Linked DNA regions of Homo sapiens. The protein of the gene in region 4 interacts with the protein of the main gene of each other region in a biochemical or structural test. Each region holds a gene or a part of one and is shown on either strand. Other genes may lie near its edges. The genes, in order: GSK3B, SIAH2, PPP1CC and SNCAIP.

Evidence for each region.
Region 1: of the proteins of SNCAIP (region 4) and GSK3B, one has a biochemical effect on the other in vitro, tested with the Homo sapiens proteins (one study listed by BioGRID).
Region 2: of the proteins of SNCAIP (region 4) and SIAH2, one has a biochemical effect on the other in vitro, tested with the Homo sapiens proteins (one study listed by BioGRID).
Region 3: the proteins of SNCAIP (region 4) and PPP1CC interact in far-western blotting, tested with the Homo sapiens proteins (one study listed by BioGRID).

The regions. Positions count from the first base shown.
Region 1 is NC_000003.12:120,082,529-120,088,161, forward strand, and holds part of GSK3B (glycogen synthase kinase-3 beta), read right to left. Parts: intron 2,121-5,633; exon of another isoform or gene 2,036-2,120; intron 1-2,035. UniProt on the Homo sapiens protein: Constitutively active protein kinase that acts as a negative regulator in the hormonal control of glucose homeostasis, Wnt signaling and regulation of transcription factors and microtubules, by phosphorylating and inactivating glycogen synthase (GYS1 or GYS2), EIF2B, CTNNB1/beta-catenin, APC, AXIN1, DPYSL2/CRMP2, JUN, NFATC1/NFATC, MAPT/TAU and MACF1.
Region 2 is NC_000003.12:150,756,562-150,760,459, forward strand, and holds part of SIAH2 (E3 ubiquitin-protein ligase SIAH2), read right to left. Parts: intron 1-3,898. UniProt on the Homo sapiens protein: E3 ubiquitin-protein ligase that mediates ubiquitination and subsequent proteasomal degradation of target proteins.
Region 3 is NC_000012.12:110,717,047-110,722,535, reverse strand, and holds the end of PPP1CC (serine/threonine-protein phosphatase PP1-gamma catalytic subunit), read left to right. Parts: coding exon 1-64; intron 65-266; coding exon 267-401; intron 402-1,370; coding exon 1,371-1,460; 3' UTR 1,461-2,331; coding exon of another isoform or gene 2,332-2,402; 3' UTR 2,403-2,856; downstream 2,857-5,489. UniProt on the Homo sapiens protein: Protein phosphatase that associates with over 200 regulatory proteins to form highly specific holoenzymes which dephosphorylate hundreds of biological targets.
Region 4 is NC_000005.10:122,311,040-122,315,036, forward strand, and holds the start of SNCAIP (synphilin-1), read left to right. Parts: upstream 1-1,197; 5' UTR 1,198-1,245; exon of another isoform or gene 1,246-1,881; intron 1,882-3,997. UniProt on the Homo sapiens protein: Isoform 2 inhibits the ubiquitin ligase activity of SIAH1 and inhibits proteasomal degradation of target proteins. Isoform 2 inhibits autoubiquitination and proteasomal degradation of SIAH1, and thereby increases cellular levels of SIAH.

The DNA.
Region 1 (5,633 bases), on a different chromosome or scaffold from region 4:
GGGATTATAGGCGTCTGCCACCACGCCCAGCTAATTTTCGTATTTTTAGTAGAGACGGGGTTTCACCATCTTGGCCAGGTTGGTCTTGAACTCCTGACCTCGTGATCCACCCGCCTCGGTCTCCCAATGTGCTGGGATTACAGGCATGAGCCACCGCGCCCGGCCCCCAAATTAGTATGTTCTTTAAGTGTAAAACACTCACTAGGTTATAAAGATTTACTACCCAAAAAAAGAATGTAAAATATCTCAATAATTTTTATATTGATTACATCTTGATATATTATTAGTTTAGATACACTAGGTTAAATAAAATATATTACTAGAATTAATTTCACTTGTGTCTATTTTTCAAAGTGGTTCATAGAAAATTAAAATTACATATATAATTCACCTTTTTGGCTTATATAATATTTCTTCTGAATAGCTCTAGTCTAAACAATTACTTAATATTAATATTTTTCAGATTTTTGTACTTGCCTTATGTTTGCATGGTAATCACTTAATAAAATGATACAAAGTAACCTTCCAACATCTATTTCTCAGTATCTAGATACTGCAAGGGTGAGGGTATCTGCCCAAAAAGTATATAGCTTCTTAACTGCCCTTTTGGAACAAATATGGAAAAAAACAATGAACAACTTTTCCAGGTATATTTATCAAACAGTTATCAGATAAGAACTATTCAACTAACAAACAAATCATGGGATTTCCATACAATGAAATGTTATTTAGAGATATGGGATCCAGGAAACTGGAGAGCCAACCCTGAAGAGCAGCGAAAGAAGTCAGAGGATGACAGCTGTACAACGGGGCCTGGAGAACAACTAGATCAGATCCCAGCAGTTGGACGAGGGCTCCAGGAAAAAGGACACTCCAGGAAAAGAAAGGGGCAGGAGGCAGGTAGAAATCCAGAGAATGTCTGATAAATTGGTACATTTGGGGGGAAGAATTGAGATTATAATTATTACAAACAGTATTTAAAAAAAAAGAAAGAAAATGGCAACAATAAAGTCTAAAAAGATTAAAAGCAAAGGAAAAAATGTGACTGTCACTTTGAAACAGCTTAATAGCTCCTTAACACTTTAAACAGAGAGTTACCATATCACCCAGCCATTCCACTACTTAGGTATATACCCCAAAAGATCTGAAAACATATGTCCACACAAAAACTTGCACACAAATGTTCACAGCAGCATATTCATACTAGTCAAAAAGCAGAAACAACCCAAATGTCCATCAACTAATAAACAAATCGCAGGATTTCCATACAATGAAATGTTATTCAGCAATAAAAAGGAATGAAGTACTAATACATGCTATAACATGGGAGAAAGAAAACAGTCATAAATGGCCATGTATTACATAAATCCATTTATATGAAATGTCCAGAACAGGCAAATCTATAAAGACAGAGAGTAAATTAGTGGTTGCCTAGAGCTGTGGGGAAGGGGAACATAGGGAATGGCTGCTAATGGGTATAAGCTTTATCTCTGAAATGATAAAAGTGCTCTAAAATTAGATGGTTGGGATGGTTACACAAGTCTATGAACACCTGAGTAATGAAAAAATGAATGTTACGGTATGTGAATTATATCTCAATAAAGCTATTCTCATAAGGAAATGTGATCACTGTATACTACTTGTTTCTACATAGAATACTGTTCCATGTCTACATACTGAGAATAATTTGAATAATAATTTAAATAAATAATAGTTTTTAAATAGTGGCATAATTATATCAGTATGAAAGCAAAAGGGAGATGGGCATGACAATAAATGATGTCTACCACAATAAGACAAAAAAATTAATTTTAAGAAATAGATAAAAAGCATATAATTAAAAATATGACAAAAACTACTAGAGGAAACAGCTGTCATAGCCAATGTTGCTTCTAAGAAGTAGGACTGGAGGACAGAAGATTACTTTCCATCATAAGCCCTTCTGCACTATTTGATTTCTTTAAATCATATATTCCTTTATAAAAGTAATTTTTATTCAACAACTAAGGGGTGCTTGATTTAGGAGCAGAATGAAACCGTACGCTCTTAAAGAAGTAAAAGGCACAGGCTTCATTGACACTGACGCACTCTGCGCCTCTGATCTCTCAAGAGAACAGGTTTTCTCATCTAAGATGTTAGAAAAATAGAAAGTTAAAAAATTATCCTGTCTTTTTATTATGAAATAAACATCTATTTTAAATGTGCTATTAATTGTTCATTGGTTAAGACTATTAACATTTTACCTCTAATTGCCACGAGAGGAGCTCTGTCATCTTTGCACTTATTCTCCAACTAACTTATATTTAGAGAAATAAGTATTTACTAATTTAATAGGTTAAAAAATAGCAATTTTCTAGAGTTACTGATTTAAATTTGTTTTAATTCTAACACTTCTGCTAAAGCTATTGTTAATTTATGTATGTATACACAAAATGCAAGTCTACTATAGAAATCATTAATCCGTAAAGATTCAGAATACCTATGAAAGGACACATAAGAAATTGTAATGCCAGTGGTCTCCAGGAAAGAGAACTGGTTGTTGCAGAGCAGGAGAGAAGACTTCACTGAATATCTTTAAAATTTTGAACCATGTGAGTAAATTACATTTTTTAAAATTTAAAGCAAAATAGGTAAATAAAACATGCAATTATCTGGCACACCGCACTCAATAATTACTGCCGTTATTACCATATATTATGAGAATATGATATACAGTACGTTGCTCTTCTATATACATGTAATTATATCTTATTATTAAAAGTCTACCAACTCAAAGCTTCCCCCTTTCCTTCATAATTTAAGTAATGTATAGAATGTGAAAACCCTGAATTCCACTAGGGCAAATGTCCCTGCAAATACTATCAGTCTGATGTCAGACATAATTCCAGTACCTCCAACTCTTCAGGTGCTCACACCACATACTCAAAATCTAGCATTAGAAATTCAATTGACTCAACTCAATAACTTCAACACAGGTCATGAAGAAAGTGTTAATCAATTAAAAATATTAACTGATTTTGCTGTACTTTGCGAGGCTGAGGCCAGCAGATTGCCTGAGGTCAGGAGTTCAGGACTAGTCTGGCCAACATGGTGAAACCCCATCTCTACTACAAATACAAAAAAATTAGCGGGGAATGGTGGCATATGCCTGTAATCCCAGCTACTCAGGAGGCTGAGGCAGGGGAATTCCTTGAACCAGGCCTCGAGGTGGCGGTTGCAGTGAGCCAAGATTGTGCCACTGCACCCCAGCCTGGGCGACACAGTGACATTCCGTCTTGAGAAAAAAAAAAAAGTATTAACTAATTTTATAAAATAACAGGAAGCAGACAGTGTTGCATTTAAATAAGATACCTTTCCTTGGAAAAAAACCTAAATCACCCAACCTTTCTAGTTATATTAGCCAATTAAGCCCCTAAGAATTTCTCAGACCTCCAAAAGAAAAACTACTTTGCCACTATCACCCTTTTTCTTCAGCCTAACAATTAAGATACCCAGCTTTTCAATTCTCATAGGCCATAAATGTATCTAGAAAAGTTCCTCTCTACATAGCTATTCATAATTCATAAGAAAGCTTAAATGACTCCATGCAGTGCCTTCTAAGCAGTCCACAAACAAAAGGTACAAGCCAGCCAAAATCCAAGCAGCAATTCCATATATACTAAGGAGGAAAAAAAAAAAAACAGAAATAGTAAGACAACAAATCTTAAATCAGATAAAACTCTGCTGCTGAGTTAATAAATGTAGATGGACAATGGAAGAAAGAGTTGGAAACAATACCCTGGGCTAGCACACTAAAGACTTTAGTACCTTTATCCATACTGCTGAAATCCAACTAGAAGATGGTGAATCAGACAGAGGTGACCCAGTTCTCTTCATCACTTCAGTGATCAACAAATTACAGATATTTTATGTAGTTTATGCAGAAGCCCAGGTTTCCACAAGAGATTTTTCTGCCTCCTGCCTCTTTAAAAGAGAATTAATATTCTCAGATGGGTGCAGTGGCTCATGACTGTAATCCCAGCACTGTGGGAGGCTGAGGCAGGATTGCTTGATTCCAGGAGTTCAAGACCAGCCTGGGCAAGATGGCGAAACCCCCTCTCTATAAAAACTACAAAAACTAGCCAGGCATGTTGGCGCATGCCTATAGTCCCAGTTACTCCAGAGGTTGAGGTTAAAAGATCACCCGAGCCCAGGAGGCAGAGGCTGCAGTGAGCCAAGACTGTGCCACTGCACTCCAGGCTAGGCATAGGCAACACAGCGAGACCCTGTCTCCAAAAAAAAAAAAAAATTTCTCTGGGTGAACATTTTCAACAATTATCAGAATGATTTACCCTGGAACTATATGAACCTACATACCCTACATACACTAAGTAATCCCAATATGCTTGTTTCCCCTAATCATCCATTCTTTTCAGTAGCATAATGCTTAATCAGTACCTATCCATTCCCCTGATCTGTGATTTCAAAAAAACCCAGACAACTCAATGAATTACAACTATATGTTAAATAATAACAAGGAACCGTTAATAAAAGCCTGAAAACTAACCTATGAGCAAAGTTTACACTCCATTTGTCTGCAGATATTAGCTGCTCAGGAGCACTTCTGGTTTACTGTCAATTACCAGCCAATTCCAATAAGGTGAGATTCCAAATAACACAATTCCACATTGATGCATAGCTGTTATTCTTCAGGAAAACTAAATTAGAAACACAATTTAGTTCGGCCACATGTGGTGGTTCACGCCTGTAATCCCAGCACTTTGGGAGGCCGAGGTGGGAAGATCACAAGGTCAGGATTTTGAGACCAGCCTGGCCAACACAGTGAAACTCCGTCTCTACTAAAAATACAAAAAATTAGCCAGGTGTGGTGGCAGGCACCTGTAATCCCAACTACTTGGGAGGCTGAGGCAGGAAAATCGCTTGAACCTGGGTGGCAGAGGTTGCAGTAAGCCCAGATCACGCCATGGCACTCCAGCCCAGGAAACAGTGCGAGACTCCATCTCAAAAAAAAAAAAAGTGTACTTTTTATTACTGAATTGATTTGAAATAAGAATCAAGAAATTAACCTTAGACCATGTTATTAAGGGAACACGTTAAGGACTTGGCTTTGTGCTGTTGTTAACCATGGTACTCTGGAAATAAAAAGTTGGTTTGACAAAACTAGTTTCAAGACAAATACATCATTACTTCAAGTGATCAAACCAAACATGCTAAGAAAACTATTCAATACAAAAAATATAAGATTTAATCACTTATAAAATTGGAACCTGCACATTGTTTGGAAGTTGACCTCTCTTCCCAAAATATAAGCAAAAATGGTAAGGGGGATTATAAACTAAGAACCCAAATCGACTAAATTGTCTTTTGTTTTGTTTTTTTTTTGAGACAGAGTCTCTCTCTGTCGCCCAGGCTGGAGTGCAGTGGCACGATCTCAGCTCACTGCAATCTCCGCCTCATGGGTTCAAACGATTCTCCTGCCTCAGCCTCCTGAGTAGCTGGGACTACAGACGCACACCACCACGCCCCCGCTAATTTTTGTATTTTTAGTAGAGACGGGGTTTCCCCACGTTGGCCAGGATGGTCTTGATCTCCTGACCTCGTGATCCACCCGCCTCGGCCTCCCAAAGTGCTGG
Region 2 (3,898 bases), on a different chromosome or scaffold from region 4:
GACCTGCTGTAACTTTTGGTAAGCCTCTGTTCTGGTTATACTAAGGCTCAACTTTCACTGATAACTATTTACTCTAGTTCCAGGTCATGGTGACCTGTGAAAAATCTTTGGCCAGTTATGTGTGGAATTACCATTAAGCTTAAGTACTGCCATATAGTATTCTAATGCTTCTGCTTTATACAAAAAGTAAACTACAACGAAAGGTGTATTATCAATTTTGTTCTTTAAAATCTTGAGCCCCGGAGTTAATGTATGTGGACTCTGGTCCTTGCCAGTTCACTCTGTGCTTTTATGGGCCAACCTTGCCCATGTCAGGCAGTAGTGAGGACTTCAGGGACAACTTCCAAAGTAAATAGTTTTGTGTTAGGAGAATTCTGGGGGTTAGGAAGAAATTTTTGAAAGTATTTTTGGCTAATCGGCTTGTGCTTCCTGCTTCCAGGTGATCCCCCATTGCAACCTTCCAACCACCCCAATACCCCCCATATTCCATTCCATATGGTGAAGCAAAAGCCCTCAACAGCACTTCTAATCTGATTTCCAAGCACCCACTAACTAGGCGTCATCTCCGTTCTTTCTAATGGATGAACAAACAGGGTCAGGGAAGTATGTGACTGGACCAAAGTCACACAAAGCCAGGACGAGAACCCAGGTCTTCTGTTTCCTGGCTCACGTTCTTTTCACTGGGACCGCTTACTATATTTTAAAATTTTAGGGTAAGAAAGAACCTTGGGATAATCATTTAGTCCAATCCCTTCTCTTAAAGACCCTCAGGTGCAAAAAAGAAACTGACCTGTATAGAGTCAAACATCTAGTCACAAGGCCATCATCTGAGGGTTCCTGATGGCCAGAAAATAATATTCTCTTGGCAAAATGAAGATGAAAAGAAAACAAGCTACAAAATCACCAACAGTTAGGGCCTAACAGAGTTCCAAAGTTCATGTATGGCAAGAGTTAAATGAGAACTTCCAGGCTCAAGGAATGCTTCTACAAGAGAATCAGATCAGAGGCTGCATGCTGGCAGCTGGAATTTGGCCTGGAGACGTGGTGGTTCGCTTTGTCTGCAAGTGGTGGTTATACATGTGAAGTCAGCCAATGCTAGAAAAAAAATCGAGATATTTAACATAAAAAAAAAATCCAGGCTGGGCACGGTGGCTCACACTTGTAATCCCAGCACTTTGGGGGGCCGAGATAGGAGGATTGCTTGAGCTCAGGAGTATCAAGACCAGCCTGGGCAACATAGTGAGATGACATCTCTTAAAGGAAAAAAAAAAGATCCAGATTTCTGGCTTTTCTTGAAAAAAATCTAAAGGTCTGATATGCCTGTACCCACATCCCCAACCCCACCAATCAGCCAGAGGTGAGTAAAGGCTGCCTCTTGGGAGGTGGCACCTGTTCTCTGGCTCTCCACCATCTCCACTGCTCCTCCAGGTCTCCCTGACCCTGAGGCCATGAGTGCATCAAATACTTCTCTCCTCTCCTCTCCTCTCATTACATGGCCCTCCTCCCATTTAGAAAGTTTGTCTCCACTGAACTAGATGAGGCCAAGGGATTTTAAACTTTCAACTGTTTTGTCTAACCTTACTTGGTTTTATGTTATTTTTTATTTTTTTAAGGAACACAGACATTGTCACAATTCAACCACAGAGAAGACTTGTCCAGCTGAGGCTTTCAAATTCAATAATTATTTGGAGATATGCTACTAGAAACTTTCAGAGAGGACAAAGAAAAGGTATCATTACAGTGTAAGAAGGCTGGAGTGGATTAGCATTGCTCACAGTTGTAGAGAGAAATACTTGGCTGATATCAAAATACATCGTTGGATGGTAAAGTAGACTATGTTGTTGATATGAATGTGTCAACCTTCACTTCTCCCCCTAAACCCACACACTGAAGGGGTGAGTTTAAGTCTGGGCACAGGATGTCAAAAGTTCTCAGGCATGGAACAAGCCACAGAATGGATTAAAAAATACCCCAAGCGGAAGAAAGCCATACACTATTAGACATTCCATTTTTTTTTTTTTTTTTTTGACACAGAGTCTTGCTCTGTCACCCAGGCTGGAGTGCAGTGGCACAATCTCAGCTCACTGCAACCTCCACCTCCTGGGTTCAAGCGATTCTCCTGCCGCAGCCTCCTGAGTAGCTGGGATTACAGGTGCCTGCCACCACACCTGGCTATTTTTTTTTTTTTTTTTTTTAATGAGACTGAGTTTCACTCTTGTTGCCCAGGCTGGAATGCAATGACGTGATCTTGGCTCACTGCAACCTCTGCCTCCCGGGTTCAAGCAATTCTCCTGCCTCAGTCTCCTGAGTAGCTGATATTACAGGCATGTGCCACCATGCCCAGCTAACTTTTTTGTATTTTTAGTAGAAACGGGGTTTCTCCATGTTGGTCAGGCTGGTCTCAAACTCCTGACCTCAGGTGATCCACCCACCTCAGCCTCCCAAAGTGCTGGGATTACAGACGTGAGCCACTGCGCCTGGCCCTAATTTTTGTATTTTTAGTAGAGACAGGGTTTCACTATGTTGTCCAGGCTGGTCTCGAACTCCTGACCTCAGGTGATCTGCTCACCTCTGCCTCCCAAAGTGCTGGGATTACAGGCATGAGTCACCACACCCAAAGATCTGAGCTAATAATGCATCCGGTTCCCCATATCAAAGGTGCTGGCAACACTCTAGCCTTTAATTAATTACCCTAAACCTAAGTGGGATAGTTATTTGGCAATACATCCATTTTTTTGCCAACTGAAGCAGTCCAGAGCTGTGATGATACCCCACAAAATACTAGGTTTGTAGGTTTCCCCCACCCTCCCATCTTCCTACCCTACATGCCCTACAAAATTCCTGCCAATGAATTTCATAGTGAGTATGTATGTTGTCATTTTGGGATGGTCCCATAAGAGGCCCATCTGGTGAACTCATCCAACCAGACGGTTTTGTTACTGGTGTCAACCTTGAGTTATGATTCAGAATCTTGAGTATACACTCAGATTCGAAATCCCTACGTAGTAAGGTGTAGGACAAAACATCTGTGCCTTTGAGATGCAGGTGCTTGGACTGGTCCTCTTACTAGCTGTGTGATTTGACAAGTCACTTCACATTTAACCACTCTGTAGGCATGAGTTTCCTCATCTGAAAAAAAAAAAAGGCAAACTAGTAAAAGCTGACCCCTGCAAAGTAACTGGCAGATAGAGGGCATCCAATAACATTCCAGATAGCCTCCCTTCTTTTCATAGAATGCTAGAAGCTACAGGTCCTTAGAAGTCAAGCAGATTCATCTCTCATTTGTATAGATGAGGAAATCAAGGCCCTGGGAGGTGGTCTTTCAGGCAAACAGTGGCAGCTCTTGAGATGTGGGCTCTGGTACTTTATTCAACGTTGGTTTTTTTCACATGAGCCAGCCCATGAGAGATTCTGAGAGCAGGTGGGGACAGTAAAAAGGCAGTCCCATAATTTCTAGGAGCCTCAAACTGTAGGCCAAAGGGCTAGGTAAACAGATCTGCCTTGTTTTAAGTTTGATACAGGCCTTACGGCTCTCTGTTGTTTCTCATCCTCTACAACTAACACATCTTGGTTGGTCGCTGGGCCTATGTATACATTCAAGTTTGGTTTATCCAGACTAACTGGCTGAGCTGCCCTGCCAATAGTTTGGATTATTGATCAACCAAAGGTGAGGGACACACACCCCAGCTTTATACAACTCACACACATGCACACACAAAAGCATCCCCAAGATCACATCCTAAGCTTGGTTCTTGGTCTGCAGGGGAATAATTGGCCCTTTTAAATTTCAGCTTGCAAAGTAATAGCTTTACCCCACTGCATTCTTATAGAATAGAGACTCAGAAAACCACTGACATGTACAGAAAGGCTGAGAACCCCTGATTCCCAGAACTACTCT
Region 3 (5,489 bases), on a different chromosome or scaffold from region 4:
TGCAGAAGTGGTTGCAAAATTTCTCCATAAGCATGATTTGGATCTTATATGTAGAGCCCATCAGGTATTGATTTTGAATTTTACATGTACACTTAAGAGCATGTGTGTGAGCACAGATTCTCCTTGTTGATTTTGGTGGGTAGGTATTGCTTATTTATACAAAGTGTTTCTGGAACACAAGATATCAGGCTCAATGGGAAACTGAAACATGGTTTTACTCACCTAATATTTGCACCTATTTATATTGAAAAAATTTTCTCTTCAAGGTGGTTGAAGATGGATATGAATTTTTTGCAAAGAGGCAGTTGGTCACTCTGTTTTCTGCGCCCAATTATTGCGGAGAGTTTGACAATGCAGGTGCCATGATGAGTGTGGATGAAACACTAATGTGTTCTTTTCAGGTAGAGCATGCTTTCAACATGATTTCCTTTTAATATGTTTACACTTTGCTGATTGAAAAATATAATTGCTACTTTTTGCCTAGTGTTCACTTATGCTGAGTAGGCTAAGTTTTTATTTTCCCTTAACCAGTGTGTATTATAGTTGAATAATGTGTGGATCCCTTGTAAAAGAAAAAATTAATTATGGCACCTTTTCCCAGTGTTGAATTATAAATTTTTGCATTGCATATTGGCTCCTTAATGCTTATGGCTCTTTTACTGTAAATCTAAAACCTTAATGACAATGTAATGTTCAGCTAAAATTAAATCACCACTTGAATGTGAAAAGTACTGAGTGCCTTGTGCTATGTGTTTACTTAGTTCTGCCCTCTAGTCTAACTTCCACAAAACTTCTGTTAATGTACCATGACATCATTTGGCCTTCAGTTGGCACAAAAGCATTATTTAGAATCTGCCTCAGCCTTTTTCTCATTTGCTTATTATGATACTTGTACAACTTCAAGCCAGCCTAGTCATAAACATAAATACAGCCACCAAATCATGTGGCACTCATCAGTTAAATGAATTAAAATAGTTTTTTACCAATTATCAGAGAGAACTTGCAGCTTTCAAAATTCCAAAGATTGTGCAAGGATCCCCTACAGGTTGGAGAAACACTTTTGTAAAGAACTTTTTCCCCTGTATCAGAAGGAGTAGCTAAAGATACTACCAGGTGTAGACTTCAGAAGATTGTCATTATACTCAGAGGCAAAATAATTTGTCCAGATAATAGATTTTATCTGTTCGTCATAGCGTTAATTACCAAATGTTTACATTCAACATAGCTTGTGTTAATATGCTAGGGGGGCTTTTACAGTTGTTGGGGCAGTTGTGAACACCATCTGAACAGAAGATCTGAATGAAATTTAAGGACTCTTAAGATTTGGGGTTGAGTATATTTCCTAAATTAACTGTCTTTTGAATCTCCAGATTTTAAAGCCTGCAGAGAAAAAGAAGCCAAATGCCACGAGACCTGTAACGCCTCCAAGGGGTATGATCACAAAGCAAGCAAAGAAATAGATGTCGTTTTGACACTGCCTAGTCGGGACTTGTAACATAGAGTATATAACCTTCATTTTTAAGACTGTAATGTGTACTGGTCAGCTTGCTCAGATAGATCTGTGTTTGTGGGGGCCCTTCCTTCCATTTTTGATTTAGTGAATGGCATTTGCTGGTTATAACAGCAAATGAAAGACTCTTCACTCCAAAAAGAAAAGTGTTTTGTTTTTTAATTCTCTGTTCCTTTTGCAAACAATTTTAATGATGGTGTTAAAGCTGTACACCCCAGGACAGTTTATCCTGTCTGAGGAGTAAGTGTACAATTGATCTTTTTTAATTCAGTACAACCCATAATCATGTAAATGCTCATTTTCTTTAGGACATAAAGAGAGCCCTAGGGTGCTCTGAATCTGTACATGTTCTTGTCATAAAATGCATACTGTTGATACAAACCACTGTGAACATTTTTTATTTGAGAATTTTGTTTCAAAGGGATTGCTTTTTCCTCTCATTGTCTTGTTATGTACAAACTAGTTTTTATAGCTATCAACATTAGGAGTAACTTTCAACCTTGCCAGCATCACTGGTATGATGTATATTTAATTAAAGCACACTTTTCCCCGACCGTATACTTAAAATGACAAAGCCATTCTTTTAAATATTTGTGACTCTTTCCTAAAGCCAAAGTTTCTGTTGAATTATGTTTTGACACACCCCTAAGTACAAGGTGGTATGGTTGTATACACATGCTGCCTTCTTGGGGATTCAAAAACAGGTTTTTGATTTTGAATAGCAATTAGTGATATAGTGCTGTTTAAGCTACTAACGATAAAAGGTAATAACATTTTATACAATTTCCATATAGTCTATTCATTAAGTAATCTTTTTACAGTTGCATCAGGCCTGAACCCGTCCATTCAGAAAGCTTCAAATTATAGAAACAATACTGTTCTATACGAGTGACCGATTATGCTTTCTTTGGCCTACATTCTTTATTCTGCGGTGAAGTTGAGGCTTATAAGTTAAAACAAAGGAACTAACTTACTGTCCACCAGTTTATACAGAACTCACAGTACCTATGACTTTTTTAAACTAAGATCTGTTAAAAAAGAAATCTGTTTCAACAGATGACCGTGTACAATACCGTGTGGTGAAAATGAATTCAGACTTATTAAATGATGAACTTGTTAAATCTTCTCAGTGTCTATTTATCAGCACAATACACACAGGAGAACTGTTGATGGCATATTGAATAGATTTTCCTGAATAAATTGCTCTGGAAACCACACGGTTGCATTTTGGTTTTGCTTCTTTCAAATAGTCTGTTTTCCAAAGATGGATTATAATACAGATACTAATACTCTTTGAGTTGTAACCTGGAGACATCTATTTGTGTAATAGAGTGATGAGGTGGAACGATCCTCCTCTACCATTTGGGGAGATGGGGATTAATCTGTGTCCATAGTTTTCTTACTGTCTGGGTTCACTTGAACTTAGTGGCGAATTTGAAAGCAGCTCACTTTGTTTTCTGAGTCAGCCACCTATATTTTCATGCACAGTTCTTTGATCTCTTCCCCCTTCCCTGGTTTATATGGAACACAGTATCATGTCATATTTTGTCACAAGTATGTATCTTAATTTCTCAAAGGTACGCTAAAAATGAGTGAAGAGCATGTCATTTGAAAAGCTTTTTTTCCTGTTACAAAGTGGTCTCCCTGAGGGCGTTGGCAGAGGACCTAGCGAGGAACTCTTTGAAGGACACAGAAGAGCACAGGGCCATGGACTCCCCTCTGCTAACAAGCCCCGGTCCTGAGGCATCTGGACCCTGCCATGCTCCCATCAAAGAGGGAAGGGGGACCTCATTACCTGCCTGCTCCACATTGACAATATCCAAACTTGTGCTGTTTCACTTTTACGTAATATTCTCCCAGACTTCTTTGACTATAGGAAGAAAACAGTGAATGATAATTGTGTCAAAGGCAAATTCTGCACATCTTTATGTCCTGAATGTTAATGAATTGATACTAGGATTTCAAAATGCTATAAAGTAAAATTGGGCTGCTCTACTAGGATTATATCATTATTGGAGTGTGGTATCAGGCTCAAGTTTTTCTTAAGGAACATTTATCAAGTACTAAGGATTATATCATTATTGGAGTGTGGTATCTGGCTCAAATTTTTCTTAAGGAACATTGGTCAAGTAGAAGACAAGATTAATCTTTGGTTTTAGGACCTGAGATCATTAGGAGAGACTCAGTTTGAAATCTGTTTGACAGCAGAACTTGAGATGTGTGTGATAACCCAAGTCTTGGCCCCTCCTACCTGATTTGAGTGAGTGACCTGAATGCTGAGCCACTGTGTTCCTAGCTATGAAACGTCCATAGCAGAAGCCGTCTCACATTGTGAATCTTGAGTGAAGTTGTGTGGTGTCTTTAGAATGCTCAACTCGGTGGTATTTGCTAAATGTTTGCTTTTGGTTATCTTATCGATCCCAGTTCTTTCGTGTCTTTGCACATCTCGGTTGGCTGAGTTTGAAGTGTCACTTGCCTTTGCTTTGCTTTGCACCTGATACCAAGCCATGGATAGCTAAGTATGTCTGAGCATTTACTGCATAAGGGAACACCATCATGGATGTTTTCAGCATATGCAAAAGAAGTAACTAGGAAAGAGGAAGTTGTAATTATTAGTGTGATACTATTCTATTAAGTGTTTTGGTTTGGTTTTGTTTTTGTCAAGTATTCTGGGTCACAAGATGACAGCACCATTACAAAACCATACAGAAAGGCAGGTGCTAGGCATCCTTAGTCGCTCAATCATCTATGTAATACCCTCCCATAGAAATTGCTGATTTGGTACACAAACTAGGCCTGCCCATGTCTAGTTGCAGTGGACAGCACAGATGCTCACATATAACCCTTGTTCTTGAAGTACCTTGATTTAAGGCCAGAGTTCTCGAGTAACATACACATAAATGGGATATGGAACACAGGGACTAGGAAAAAATTACTGAATGCTGAGCCATGAAGAAGGCACATGATTTAAACTGATGGAAAGGAATATCAATCAAATTTCTCAATGTGGGTCCATGATGAGCGTTTGAAAGGGAATTCAGTTTGCTGGGAAGTGAAGATACAAGCTACCAAGTTAAGGCATCATGATACCAAAAAACACAAAGGAACCATTGCAGGGAAGTGCTGCATGAAAAATCTTAGGTTTATTTTGGCAGTTTGCAGACACCATGTGAATTGAGACACGGAGACAAGGGCCATGTAATCCAAGTATCACCTGAAATTAGTAGAAGGGACAAAGCTGAGGATCTGCATCAGAACAAAGAAGGAATGTCTTCCTCATGTTTGGGTCTATAGAAGACATTAAAGAAAACTTCCAGAAAGTGGGTTTGAGGCCGGGCATGGTGGCTCACACCTGTAATCCCAGCACTTTGGGAGGCTGAGGCAGGCGGATTACAAGGTCAGGAGATCGAGACCATCCTGGCTAACACGGTGAAACCCTGTCTCTACTAAAAAAAATAGAAAAAATTAGCCGGGCATGGTGATGGGCGCATGTAGTCCCAGTTACTCAGGAGCCTGAGGCAGGAGAATGGCGTGAACCTGGGAGGTGGAGCTTGCAGTGAGCCGAGATCACGCCACTGCACTCCAGCCTGGGCGACAGAGCGAGACTCTTAAACAAACAAAGTGGGTTTGAAGTGCTATGTCTCCATTTTCCTATCTTGAGGAAAAGACCCAAAACTCAACCTCATGTACCAGCTGGCTTGAATCTGCAGGGGTGGTTTTGATGAGTAAGAACTTTCAGTCCTGCAAATCAGATGTATGCATCAGCCCAGACTGGAAGAACATGGCACCCTCTGCCCCAGGCTTTGGTTTCCTTCTCACCCACAGAAGAGGAATAACTAGAATACTTAACGATGGGATTGTGAGGATTAGCCCACCAAAAATCTACAACTTGCCTTAGTCATAAGCATTCAGGAAACAGCCCTGGTATAAGACCAATGAATAGCCCTAAGATTTAGACCAATGGCAACACACAGGAACT
Region 4 (3,997 bases):
CATCTCGCCTGGGAAAGAGATTTCTCAAAGACCATTTAAAGCTTTCCAGAGGGCAACAGCGAGACAGTCGCGAGCCAAGGTTACCATAAATGCTTCCACAACCCCTGATTTCATTTCGGAAATAAGGAAAGAAGTAGTCACCACTGCAGGCGTTGCTTACGCCTCATCCAGCAGCCTCCCACCCCCAATCCCTCAACAATTAAGAGACAATAAAAGTAAAGATAATATTACTGTAGGGCCATTGGTACACTGAAACGTCGTTGAATTAAAAAGTCTTTATTTCAGCCTAACATCTTCTCCATCCACCCACACTTGAGCACAGAACATTCCAGGCAGGCAAAGCCACCCTTGCCCTCCTCTCCTTGGCCACGTCCTCAGGGGTGGGCGAGCTTCGGGGGGAGGGGTGGGGGTGAAGACTCCGTGCCAACGCAAAATACTCTGCCAAAAGGCTTCTCAGACATGAGTTTCCCAGGGCAATGCCCACCTTCCGTTCCCCGCCTTCCCGAGTCTCTTCTCCCAGTTTATGCTGGAACCCTGGAATGGTCTGGGGACCAATGAGATGGCAGCGGTTAACGCTTGGATCACGGTGAGGGGGCGATTTCCAGGGGGAGAGGCCAAGAAGCAAGGAAGGGGGTGGGGGGCAGGAGGAGAAAAGTGGGAAGCGCGGACAAAAAGTAGGCGGGGAGGAGAGGAGAGCCCCAGCTGGGGAAAAGCAACGGCAGTCGAGGTAAAAAGAGCGAAAGGTAAAGAAAGAGCAGGTTCGTGGACAGGAGCCGGCGGGCAGGCCGGGGGATCCCTGGTGAGGAAGCGGCGAGGGAGGGGCGTGGGCCGAGCCGGGGGCGCCGCGGGGAGGGTCGCTGTCAGTCAGGCCGAGCGGGGCTCGCTGGCCTGGGGGCGGCCGCAGGGGCGCAGCGCAGCCTGAGGGCGCGGCGGCCCCGGCAGCCTCCGCAGTGGCAGTGGTGGCCGCGCCCCCGTCCCCGGCCGGGCGCCCGCGCTGCGTTCCTTGTCCCCCAGCGCCGGCTTCGGGCCGCGGCCGCCCAGGCTGCCCCCGCCCGCGCGCGCCCGTTGGGGGGCCCGGGGAGCGGCGCCCGCGGCCGGGCCGCATTGTGACGTAGCGGGGCCGCGGCAGCGCCTCCACCGCCCGCCTACTTCGGCTGAGGCTGTTCTGCTCCTGCCGCTGCGGTCCGTCGGTCGGTCAGTCAGTCCCTTCGCGCTCCTGAGCCGCCGGCGCGCCGGGCGCCCCGGGTGAGTCCAGGTCCCAAGCGGACGCCGCGGGGAGGCGGGAGGCGGGCAGCCAGCGGCTCAGCCTTTCCAAGTTTGCACCAGGCGACCCCGGCGGGTGTCGCCCCGTGCTCCCCAAGCCCCGGGACCCCTTTGTGCCGCGAGTCTCGGCTGCTCCGGGCAGCAGAGGCGCCTCTGCAGAAAGGGTTTGAGGGGGAGGTCTCTATAGTAACAGTAACAGTGGTGGCGGCAGCGGCTGCTTTACTGGGGAAAGGGGGAAACAACCCCCGCCTCGGTTTCCAAAGGATTGTTCTTTTCATTTGCCCGCCTCATGTGGTTCTTATTCTTGCTGTCACCCGGGATCTTATCGCAGGCAGGGATGGGCAGTTCCGCGGCTCGGAAAAGCTGAGATAAGGAGGGGCGAAGTAATAGTAATAGCGACAGTACTAACAACGGTAATAATAGCTGTAGAAAAGGGACGTCTGGTGTTGCTGCCGCCCCTCGCTCATCAGCACCAGCTCCCCGACTGCCCTGTCCAGCCCGGGCTCCGCCAGCCTCCCTCTAGTGCTGTTCTGCGTCCCAGGCTGGTCCGCGTGGATTTCAGAGGGGAATGTTTCTCTCTTGGCCTTGTCTCTTGGCGATGACTTTCATCTGCAGGTGGTAAGTGGGGTGAACCCAATTTTAGCTAATTGTCAAAGGCCACATTTTGTTTATTTCATTTTTACGAAGAGAAAAGAGGGAAAATTATGAGCCATTACTGGCAGCCATACAGTTTCCACAGGAAATACTAGCATTCTTTGAGGAACACGCTACTGCTTGCAGCGAAGAAAGTCTTAGGAAACAAAAAGGCAACAGCATTGTTGCTCATTTTCAATGGACGGCTAGGAGGGGGGAAACGTGTTGTTTTTTCCTGTGGGAACGTTGCTTTCCTTGGGAAAGTTAATTAAGGAAGCATTACTGTCGGTGCCCCTTTTCACTTGCTGGAGGCAGGATCGGATTCCTCTTGGCTGTTACTGACAAGTGCCCATCAAAGAGCCCGGAGGACGGGAGAACTGCTGCAGGACAGTCTCGCCACACACCACGTGCCGTGGAGCCTGGCCAGGGTGCAGTTTGCAAAATGAAATAAGGGCTGTCTGGGGAAGTTTATGAGGATTACATGTGTGCACAGTATGTCAGTTCTCCAAGGTGTCACTCTAAACACGTAATTTTCAAGCACTACTTTCGTTGCTGAATCTGTAGGAAGGGAAAAACCTATTTTTCTTTTATGGAGCAGACATCCCAATTGGGAATGGGTTGAAATCTGTATTTCATTTGTACATATTGAAAATTTAAAAGGCAAAGAACAAGGTGTAGGAAAGCAGTATGCTAATGTGTACACATCTGGGAGAGAAAGTCTATTGACTGTTTCTGATGCATCTCAATGTTAAATTACATTCAGCATGGTTAGAGTACAAGGAGACACCTTTAAGCAGTCCTCAAGACTTTTTGGAAGGTGCAATATTTCGGTACTGATCGCGGAAGTCTCTCTGGAAAGGGAGTATTAACTGAGGATTACCCATAACTAAATATGTATGCATTAACAGGTCTGGAATCAGAAAGTAAAAGATAGTGCTTCTCTTAAGGATCTTTTGGACACCTCAGTTAGAAATAAAATATAGCATGGGATTTTGAAAAGAAGGGGTATAATTTTGAATGTAAATTTCATTTTCTCCGTAGCAAGCATTTCATGAAGAAAAGTTACAGATAGTAGATTTGAAATGATGCTGCATTCATGAATTTGACGGTTACCATTTGTTGATATCCAAAAGGAAGTGACTAAAGCAAATGCATTTCTCTGTCTACTCTGTCACAACTTTCCTAATTCCAGACAGTTGTTCTGGTGCAGGTGTACAGTGGAAATGCAAGCCAAGAAACTTTGTGCGTGCTATTGTTTTGGAAGAAATTGTAGCAGTACTTTACTGCTCTTAAGGGAAACCCACACAAACATCTAATACAAACAAATGATCTTTGATATTAGCAGAAAAAGCCTGGAGCTGTTTTTCTTGCCAGATTTAAGGCATTTCTTGTCAAAAGAGGAAATCTCCCAAGGAGCAGGTGCATCATTATAGGAAACACAAGGGAATTTCTCTTTTAAATGCAAAATCTAATTGAATAGCAACAAGAGAATCAGTAACACTCTTAGAATAGAAGCTTTGTTTTTGGCAGTTTGTCAGGTTACAGTTGCAAACCACATAGGAGAAATATGTGTCTTGGGAGAAAAATGATATCCTGGTGAAAATCAAATAGTTGCTTCTGTGAAACTTTTACCCTTATATACTTATTTTCTTGTGCCCATTTGATTTATATGCAGATTCACTTGCAGGAAGTTATTTATGGAAAATGAATCAAAAACTTGTTTGCTAGTATCATATGTACTATGCATGATTTTTCACTTTATAGATTAGGTAACTAGATTTATATTTTATGGTTTGCATCTTAGCGGTTTTTTACGTTTTTGAAATTAATGATCAAAATATGTGTTAAAATAATTTTTAATTGATAAGACTGATAGCTAGGCCCTGGGAAAGTACTAATTGATTCCTAAATAGTTATCGTGCATTTACTTTGTGCTTATTTGTAATACAGCAATTTAAAATCCATAGTCTTTTCGTAAGGAACATTTTCATAGGAAATAGGACCCATGGAAAATTAAATGATACTAAACATCGAAGAACACATTTCATAATTGAGTGCCTAAGATGCTAAATAGTAATTGAAAAGGAATTCTGAGGAGAGA